2 linked regions of the Homo sapiens genome follow. The protein of the gene in region 2 interacts with the protein of the main gene of each other region in a pairwise test. Each region holds a gene or a part of one and is shown on either strand. Other genes may lie near its edges.

Region 1 (2,962 bases), on a different chromosome or scaffold from region 2:
GCCGCCACTCAACAGTCAGATGAACCCAACAGTCAGATGAGAGAAATGAACCCTACTTGCTATCTCTATCTTAGAAAGCAAAAACAAACAGGAGTTTCCAGGGAGAATGGGAAAGCCAGGGGGCATAAAAGGTACAGTCAGGGGAAAATAGATCTAGGCAGAGTGCCTTAGTCAGGGACCACGGGCGCTGAATCTGCAGTGCCAACACCAAACTGACACATCTCCAGGTGTACCTCCAACCCTAGCCTTCTCCCACAGCTGCCTACAACAGAGTCTCCCAGCCTTCTCAGAGAGCTAAAACCAGAAATTTCCAGACTCATGAAAGCAACCCCCCAGCCTCTCCCCAACCCTGCCGCATTGTCTAATTTTTAGAACACTAGGCTTCTTCTTTCATGTAGTTCCTCATAAGCAGGGGCCAGAATATCTCAGCCACCTGCAGTGACATTGCTGGACCCCTGAAAACCATTCCATAGGAGAATGGGTTCCCCAGGCTCACAGTGTAGAGACATTGAGCCCATCACAACTGTTTTGACTGCTGGCAGTCTAAAACAGTCCACCCACCCCATGGCACTGCCGCGTGATTCCCGCGGCCATTCAGAAGTTCAAGCCGAGATGCTGACGTTGCTGAGCAACGAGATGGTGAGCATCAGTGCAAATGCACCATTCAGCACATCAGTCATATGCCCAGTGCAGTTACAAGATGTTGTTTCGGCAAAGCATTTTGATGGAATAGGGAACTGCAAATGTATGATGATTTTGAAAAGGCTCAGCAGGATTTGTTCTTAAACCGACTCAGTGTGTCATCCCCGGTTATTTAGAATTACAGTTAAGAAGGAGAAACTTCTATAAGACTGTATGAACAAGGTGATATCTTCATAGTGGGCTATTACAGGCAGGAAAATGTTTTAACTGGTTTACAAAATCCATCAATACTTGTGTCATTCCCTGTAAAAGGCAGGAGACATGTGATTATGATCAGGAAACTGCACAAAATTATTGTTTTCAGCCCCCGTGTTATTGTCCTTTTGAACTGTTTTTTTTTTTATTAAAGCCAAATTTGTGTTGTATATATTCGTATTCCATGTGTTAGATGGAAGCATTTCCTATCCAGTGTGAATAAAAAGAACAGTTGTAGTAAATTATTATAAAGCCGATGATATTTCATGGCAGGTTATTCTACCAAGCTGTGCTTGTTGGTTTTTCCCATGACTGTATTGCTTTTATAAATGTACAAATAGTTACTGAAATGACGAGACCCTTGTTTGCACAGCATTAATAAGAACCTTGATAAGAACCATATTCTGTTGACAGCCAGCTCACAGTTTCTTGCCTGAAGCTTGGTGCACCCTCCAGTGAGACACAAGATCTCTCTTTTACCAAAGTTGAGAACAGAGCTGGTGGATTAATTAATAGTCTTCGATATCTGGCCATGGGTAACCTCATTGTAACTATCATCAGAATGGGCAGAGATGATCTTGAAGTGTCACATACACTAAAGTCCAAACACTATGTCAGATGGGGGTAAAATCCATTAAAGAACAGGAAAAAATAATTATAAGATGATAAGCAAATGTTTCAGCCCAATGTCAACCCAGTTAAAAAAAAAATTAATGCTGTGTAAAATGGTTGAATTAGTTTGCAAACTATATAAAGACATATGCAGTAAAAAGTCTGTTAATGCACATCCTGTGGGAATGGAGTGTTCTAACCAATTGCCTTTTCTTGTTATCTGAGCTCTCCTATATTATCATACTCAGATAACCAAATTAAAAGAATTAGAATATGATTTTTAATACACTTAACATTAAACTCTTCTAACTTTCTTCTTTCTGTGATAATTCAGAAGATAGTTATGGATCTTCAATGCCTCTGAGTCATTGTTATAAAAAATCAGTTATCACTATACCATGCTATAGGAGACTGGGCAAAACCTGTACAATGACAACCCTGGAAGTTGCTTTTTTTAAAAAAATAATAAATTTCTTAAATCAACTCTTTTTTCTGGTTGTCTGTTTGTTATAAAGTGCAACGTATTCAAGTCCTCAATATCCTGATCATAATACCATGCTATAGGAGACTGGGCAAAACCTGTACAATGACAACCCTGGAAGTTGCTTTTTTAAAAAAAATAATAAATTTCTTAAATCAACTCTTTTTTCTGGTTATTTGTCTGTTTGTTATAAAGTGCGACGTATTCAAGTTCTCAATATCCTGATCATAATACAGTGGTTGCTGTGCTATACATTAAATTACATTTCTCAAATGATTTCATGCCTTCCACTAATTTCTCTACTGTCTGGATTACTGTCATTTCTTCCTTAGCTGTCAGACATTCAAAATATTTTTTATTTCTCATAACAAATTTCAAATTAAAAATGTAATCCATGCTAAGAGAAAATAAGTAAAAAGTGAAAACAGAACACACAGGAAAAATATACTGCATCAGTTAGGATTGTGTTTGGCTAACGTAGCAGAAAGGCAACTAGGATTGATTTTACAAGGAGTCCAGAGATTTGCAGCAACCCAAGAACCAGACAGTGTTGTGGACAGTGCTGCAATAAATACCTTTCTATGTACATCTCAAAATCTTTGTATTGCTTCTGCATTTCTGATACAACTCACTTTATCCCTCCTAGCAGTTTTAATTCAGCTCCTCCATTTATTTTGTAGGTAGAAGAGCATCTCCTTCTAGTTCCTGAATTTCTTTGTAAGATCTCATTGAGCCTTGAATACATCTTAATTGGAATAAAACCATCCACAAACAGAAAGTCATGCCACAAGTCTTTTCTAAGTTTTCATTAGTATTTGCTTTTTAATAGGTATGGGTATGAACACATTTTAAAATTATATCTTTAATAATTGTGTTTTGGGGGTTATTTTGAGACAGGATCTTACTCTGTCACCCAGGCTGGAGTGCAGTGATGCAATCATGGTTTACTGCAGCCTCAAACCCCTAGGCTCA
Region 2 (7,630 bases):
GGGAAGAGTGTGAAGTGTCCCAGTTTCTTGTATTTGCTGGGGTATTGCTATAGGTTTGTATGGAAACAGATGAGCATGCTTGGGTAACATCTGTGGTCTGATTAGATATCCTACCAAAGAGTCACACTAACTTATATAAAAAATTAGGGTGTTTTTTTCTCAAGTGTTTTTTCCTTGTTTATTGAATTCCAGAAACATTATGGGTTGAGATCAAGTTCCTATTTTAAGAGTCACCCATTTGTTCACTATAAGTTCCCGGAGAAGGTAGAGTCATACGGTACTAACCTTCCAGCATCTGGTTCTTGTGGTTTCCATGTTCAGATTTCTGAGATTTTCACAAGCTTTTTCCCATAAAGACTGCATTTTTTTTAGGAGCTCCTCCTGCAAAACAGCCACGAATTGAAGCACAAGTGAGGACAATAAAGTATCATTCACACTCTGATATACGAAGGACCCAAAATGAGAGACAAATTAACCCACAGAAAAGAGAGTTTGCTTTGTTTCTCCTCATGTTTGTCAAATCTGAGAGGTGTGAAGTCAAGGAAGCTCATAACAGACATGCTTAAGGGGACACAGAGATGGCATCATCCAATCTCGAAGGAAATAGACTTACAAGAATTTCATGTGTCCTGTATAGAAATAGATCTTCAGAGGCATCACTTACCCGGCGTTCCTCAGCAGCCCACTCAATGGGACAGTGTATGTGATTCCGGTGCTCCTGAGAGTTGGAGCACGGCAAACAGAGCAGGCTCTTGTCCACTTCACAGAACATCTTCTTTGTCTCTCTGTGCATCCCACATATTTGCTCCTCAGAGCTAAGGAATTGCCGGAGGCTGGCTTTTCTGGCAATGAAAGCCATGTTCTTCAAACAAATGTCAGTGTTGAGGTTTCTCTGCCGCGTTGTCTTCTTGCATTCAGAGCACTGAGCAAGAACTGCCGTGTCTTGCCAGTTGAGGTACAAACAGGGCCGGCAAAAGCTGTGCCCACAGTCTATGGTGACTGGGTCTAGGAAGTAGTTCATGCAGATGGGACAGGTGAGTGCCCTCTGGAAGACTTGCAAGATTCCAGAATTCATGTTTCTGAAGAAGAAAGAGCAGCATGTCATTTTGGGGTCTGGGTTGGTGAAAATCCGTGAACATGTGGTGATATGTGATAGCTATATTTTCTTCTTGACAGTGCTCATTAAAGCGGAACAAACTATTTCCTCTGTAACAAAAATGAAAAATTCAAACACAAAGAGAGTCTTTAGGCTTTTTAGCAGACACTGCTGACTAGATGACTCACAACCTCTTCTACTCCTGGTTCCTGCCCATAGCATAATGCAAATCTGTTCAAAAACCTACTCCCTGGATGTCGACATGAAACTCGGGTTTTAATCTTAAGTGGTCTAGAATGAAACATGCTTGTCCCTATTTCTCTTTCAAATAACAACTGAATGACTATGGGAGAGGAGTAGAAAACCTACATTGGGTAACAAAACATGAGAAGATGGTCAGAGGTTGCTATGACATATTTTTAGAGAGAGGGACCGAGAAGCCGGCTCTTTAAAACAAAAACAACCCCAGAACAAACCAACCGACCAGATTAAAAAAAAAAAGACAGCAATTAAACCAGTCTAGGATCACTAGGAGATAAAATAAATAATGAAAAATGTTGGGTTTATTTTTCTTATGGCTTAAATTAACTTCTTCTTTGGGCTACTCAAACTATGAACTGACATATAGTCAGTTTTTTAAAAACTGAAATATATATCATTATATTACTATGGTATTATGGTTAATTATAGGTGTTGACTTGACTGGATTAAATAATACATGGAGAATTGGTAAAGCATGATTTCTGGGTGAGTCTGTGAAGGTGTTTCCGGAGAGTCATGTAAGTTGGTGAGCTGAGTGGGCAACAGCAGCCCTCAGTGTGGGTGGACACTATCCAATCAGCTGGTAGCTCAGACTGAAGATAAAGGGCAGAGACAAGGCAGTTTCCTCTCTTTCTCCTGAAGCTGATTCTAACTCAGCCAGGATATTGGTATCTCCAGGACACTACCTTAATGACAGCCTATGTTCAACTTCTCAGACTCCATAATCAAGGGAACAAATTCCCCTAGTGGACTTCCTCTCCTGTACAGTGTCATGTGTAGAGTGAGGACAGATATATGATCTGAGGGACGCGTTAGACAGTCTCGTTATTGTTTGAACATCATAGGGTATACTTACACAAACCACACCTATGGTATACAGTATAGCATATTGTTCCTAGGCTACAAACCTGTATGGTATACGATAGGCAATTGTACCACAATTGTAAGTATTTTTGGTATGTGTATATATATATATATATATATATATAGTTATAGTTATGTACACATCCTATGGTTCTGTGTCTCTGGAGAACCCTGACCAATACAAACTGTAATCTTTGCCTTGGCAGTTTGAAGTCCTTTACCTTACTCTCTTTTACTAAACACTGCTGAATTTAAGTGCCAAGAGTGAAAATTTAAGAATTGCAAATATTTTTCAGAGGCCATCTGAGCCATTTCAAGGAATTTTTCACAGTTTCATCTGAGGTAAACCTCAATTAAAATGACAGCTAGTATCAAGTATCAAATCATTCCTTATACAGTTATCTGCTAAACAATCGTGTTTTGATTTCTAAGCTAGGGTATTTTGGAGAGCATTCTTATTTCCTTTAGTATCACCATTTTTAACTCATCATTGCCTCAGTAACTTAAAATCATGTCTAAAAGCTTAAGGTTATGAAAGCACAACATTTACAGTATTCAATAATTATCCTTTTTTACTTAATTAAGTGTACCAATATTAGTACATGCAGTACACATATATATGTTTTAATATGAATTCCATATACCCATGATGCATACAAATCTATTGCAGCAAACACTAGATATCTAAAATTTTTCAAAAATATATCAAACACTTTTGGAACACACAAAATGACAACAATAACCTCATGTCATAACCTCATGTCATAAAATGAATAGCAATAATATGAGTTACAAATAAGATCATTCGGTAAGTTTAGACAGTTAGATATTTTTATCACTGTAATTTACTATTTTAAAGGAAGAGAGAAATAATTTTCTCCATAGAAGTTGCACTCACCCCAAGGTTCTATGAATGTTTCCTGCAGTAATTCTTCCAAGAAAAAATTCTTTTAAGTACTCCCCAAGATCAGGAGCTCATTCCCTGCAGAGTTGACTTTCAGAGGTCATCACTTGAATGCAGTTAACTCTAAGTGCTGTCCTCCTCTGGAGAAATATGAGCTTGTCTCTTCTACATCCATTTAGGTGAATCTTTGAAGACCACAACCACCTATTTAGTGATATTTAGGGTATTAAGAAAGGTGGAGACAGAGATGATTAGGTTTATGCAATATTTAGTACACGCCTTTTCATCACTGATTAAATTAGCATCACACTATCATTGTAAAAACCACTGCCTGAATGAGGCATATCTATCATCAATCTTATCAGAGTAAACATATGCTAGAAATTAACTAAGTTGATTAAACTGTTTCTTGAGTTTCTTCCCAAGGCACAAGCATTCCTCTAAGTGCACATTTATTTATTTATACCAAAGAAAGTTTCACCCTCTGGAGTGCAGTGGCACAGTCTTAGCTCACCGCAGCCTTGAATTCCAGGGCTCAAGTAATCCTCCCACTTCAGCTTTCAAAGTAAAAAAGACTAGAGGTTTATGCCATTGCACCTAGCTAATTTTTCATTTATTCATCAAAAATATTTTTAAAATTCTTAGGTGATTACATGTGTTACAGTGACCATCCGGATTAGAATTAGATTAGGTTTAAAATGATGAAAGAATCTGGGAGAGGGGGCAGAGTGTTGGTTGTTAATTAGCACATGGATCAAAGGAGATTACTGATGTGTTTAGAAGCCACAACATTGACAGAATAAAAGCCGGAACTAACAATCCAATGGTAAATCTCTTTACTGTGGTATTTGCTGCCATTTCTGCTCCATAAGACACACCTTAACCACTTTGTCATGGTATCTGCAGTATTCTATTTTAGTCTAAATAGCATTTTCTCTCAAATGCATTCTATTTCTCTCTCCTTCATCTTCCCTCCCTTCTTTCTTCCAGCTGTATTTTTTCACTGGAGAACATTAGTAGAATGTTCTCCCAAATTTCAGATTTCAGATACGCATCTGTAAAATAATCTTATGGAGACACATTTTAATTGCTACTGAATACTTGGTTGTTTTCATAAGTTCGCAGCATTACTACTGCCTCCAAAAAACGGTTTCCCATTTCCACAGCTAATCTCATCATTGACTCTGCCATCCAAGTTTATTCTGTGCCACTCTGGAAGAATCTGGAAAAATACTTAAAATACATTTTAAGTATTCATCATGCACATGTATTGCATTTTATTTTATATATGTTCAGGTGAATATCTTTCTCCACTAATTGTTTGCATTTCAATTCTTGTATCATGTTTTTTGAAACACAGAAGTCCTCATTAATATAAACCTACTAATTTTTTTAATTGTTAATTTTTGTCCTGGTTAAGAAATCCTTATGAGAATATTGTATCATGTTCCCCTTACCTTCAGAACTGGAATCTATTTGGAAATGACTGTGTGTGTTTTGAGGTAGGAGTCAATATTTAGTTATTTTTTAAAATTCAATTAATCCAGCATTGTTCTGACCACCTTGTGTATTTCAATGTAGAAGAGCACACTAATAATGCAGGATTATTTATCTATGTGGTGAGAATTCCAAAATGAAGCCCAGCATGGAAGGTCAAATAATATTAACTCAAAGGATAGATTAGTAAAATGAAATGTGATGGAGAAGTGCAATATAGTTAGGTAAAGAGAAAGAAAAACATTTCCCAGCTATCATTAAGACTTCACTCCAAGCTTTTGCATGAAGCAAAAGATCCCGACTCTCTTCCATTGATTTTAACTCCATTCAGACATGTCTGTCATCTATTATTTCACTCAGTGGCAGTCAGAAATAAAGAAAAAAAAACAGAATATATTTTATGCCATGATCATGAATGATGATTTTTCAAAAATTAATAAAGAACCAAAACATATACTTTTAGTGTTTTTACCATTTTTAATAGTAACACAATAAATGAGTTTTAATAACATTAGGAGGCAATTCAAGACATAAAACAGAACCTATTTGTCCTGTTTGATAAGGCACAAGGAAGAGGGCTTCCTGGAATAAAGGGGTTCTCACAGCAGATGAACACATTTCTGATTTATCTCTGGTCAGAGGTGAATACACCGAAAGGTAGGCCTGAGAGGAGGTGAGAAGGAGCAATTAGGGATGGTGTATATAAGGCAGCTTTGATTAACATCAACGAAGCTCACAGTTCTAGCTTCACAATCCAGGAATAATCCTATGTGGCTGGTAGGTCTTGGGATATATTGCAGTGTAAGTGGGGAGGTGGTAAAGAGACTGCACTGAATGTCATTCTTGGCACATCCAAGACTAAGGAGTCCCTCCTCTCCATATATATTGTCATTCGTATTCTTCCCTTTCCAGTACTTATTACAGACACCAAAAGCCCAATTCCAAGAGTCCCCCACATGGACCTCCCAGTAATATTTGCCGGAGGTGAAAGTCTGAGCACCCCATGCAAGAAAACTTGTAGGTGTTGCAGTGATATGGGGCGGATTTGGACGGTCACATCCAATACACATGCTTCTCAAATCTCCACATCGAAAGATATGACTGTTGGCTCATCGTGATTCAGAGTAATATCCACTGCAAAAATAAATAAATAAATAAAAGAGAAAGAAACAAAACATGCATAGACATGTGTCAATAAGCAAAAATTGTTCTATCAAGAAGTTAATTTACCAGGAAATGTAAAGTCACAAGGACAATTTTGCTTGTAACTTCTAATAAAGCATAGAGATGATTAATTTTAACTACAAGACAAACAAAACAATAACCACAGGTATTAAAAATGGTTTGAAAACTTACATATTGAGAGCCAAATGTAAGGACCAACTTCTTTCAACCCAATTTTCAAAGCAAAATTTGCACATTATATGCCCTAAATAGTATGCTGTTATCAAGATTATTATTTAGAAATGTTTCTTATTCTTAAAAACTAGTGCTATCATTTTGGAAAGAATGTGAAGATTTTCAGTTACTCAAGAACTGCTCTTGATGACTGGATAAAAATCCGTAAGTACATGTCATAAGTGACAATTTAAAGCAGATTTCTGTAAAATCTTTTACCAGTCTCTCTGTGGTCCTCCATGCTAGCTTGGGGCTGAAAAGCTGGATTTTAAACTTAACCTGTAGCTTTTCATATTGCAATTAAACTGAACTTCTTTTTGTTTGTAATTTTACTTGTATTCACAAAACGATTTCTTGTTTTTATGTTTACCCATTAACTAATTTTTTTTACAATTCATGATAAACATCCATTTAAAAAATTTAAAAACCCCAGCAATCCCCATTAAACCATAATCCCCAAAAGAACAGTTCTTAGCTGTTCAAATGAATACACTAAGGAAATGTAAAATTTTGTATTTAACATTAACTAACTCACCTTCATTCTGAGCATTGTTCCATTTGCTCCTTTTTAAAATTTGCTACACTACTGGTTTTTCCCATTACATTACTCAGTATATATGAGGCCAAAATGTATTTGTTTTTCACTATCTTTCAAACTTAGTGCTATAAATCTGACTATACAGACACAGATACAAAAGGGTTGCATGATTATGTTGTTCACTTATGTCTATAAGGAAGTAAAATATCTGATAAAGGGTGAAATATTACCTATGTGGTCCTAACAGTAATAATATTTAGATAGTGGAAGTGCTGTCTATGGGTGGAGACTTACCTCAGAATTGGATGAGCCTGTCCCTCAGTCCAGTGATGGGCCCTGCACTGAGCTCTAGATTCAGAGGCTGGGACACGTGCAGCAGCACGGACTCACTCCTGGAAGGAAAAACCTGCAGTTACAACATCTACAGCCATAAAATAAATAAAAATCACTATTTCTATTTAAAAGCCAGTTCATGAGAATCCTTTGAATCCACAAATTGGATTATTCAAAAATTATTACTTCCTTTTTGGAATTAATTTCTATTTACAGTTTCCAAATTTTAAAGCATAGTGGGAGAGTCTGAGTCAGAATTCAGTCTGATCTTTCTTTTTTTCTGCCCCACATGTGTAAGGTTCCTTAGCCTTATGGCCTTCAGAATATTTGGAAATGAAATTCTGAGTTCCACTTCTTGGCAGACTCCCCTGACATCTTTGTCTGAAATAGCGGGGTTCTGGGGAGACTGCTGCATCTGCTGCTTCCTTTTCAAGATAAAGAATGTGAAGTTTGTTCTAGGCAGCTAGACCTGCCTTTTAGAAACAAGAGACTTCCCTAGAGACTTATACAGTTCTAACACTACACAGTTTCTTCAACATATTTTTCAGGACTGTTAACTGATATGTATGTAGGTATGAACAACAAATCATCAACTTTTTCACTGCTAAAATACTTCCCCCACTTCTCTCCTGCTTCCTCTGGTGACTTTCTCACCATCCACAAAACAAAACTTTATCTTTCACCTATGCAGGCTTTTAAGCAATAAAACAAAATCAGGAATAAATATTTTTTTATTTCA

Evidence for each region.
Region 1: the proteins of TRIM51 (region 2) and ANTXR1 interact in a two-hybrid assay, tested with the Homo sapiens proteins (one study listed by BioGRID).

What each region holds. Positions count from the first base shown.
Region 1 is NC_000002.12:69,247,179-69,250,140, forward strand, and holds the end of ANTXR1 (anthrax toxin receptor 1 isoform 1 precursor), read left to right. Parts: 3' UTR 1-2,149; downstream 2,150-2,962. UniProt on the Homo sapiens protein: Plays a role in cell attachment and migration. Interacts with extracellular matrix proteins and with the actin cytoskeleton and thereby plays an important role in normal extracellular matrix (ECM) homeostasis.
Region 2 is NC_000011.10:55,878,874-55,886,503, reverse strand, and holds the start of TRIM51 (tripartite motif-containing protein 51), read right to left. Parts: upstream 3,208-7,630; 5' UTR 3,120-3,207; intron 1,080-3,119; 5' UTR 1,076-1,079; coding exon 665-1,075; intron 382-664; coding exon 286-381; intron 1-285.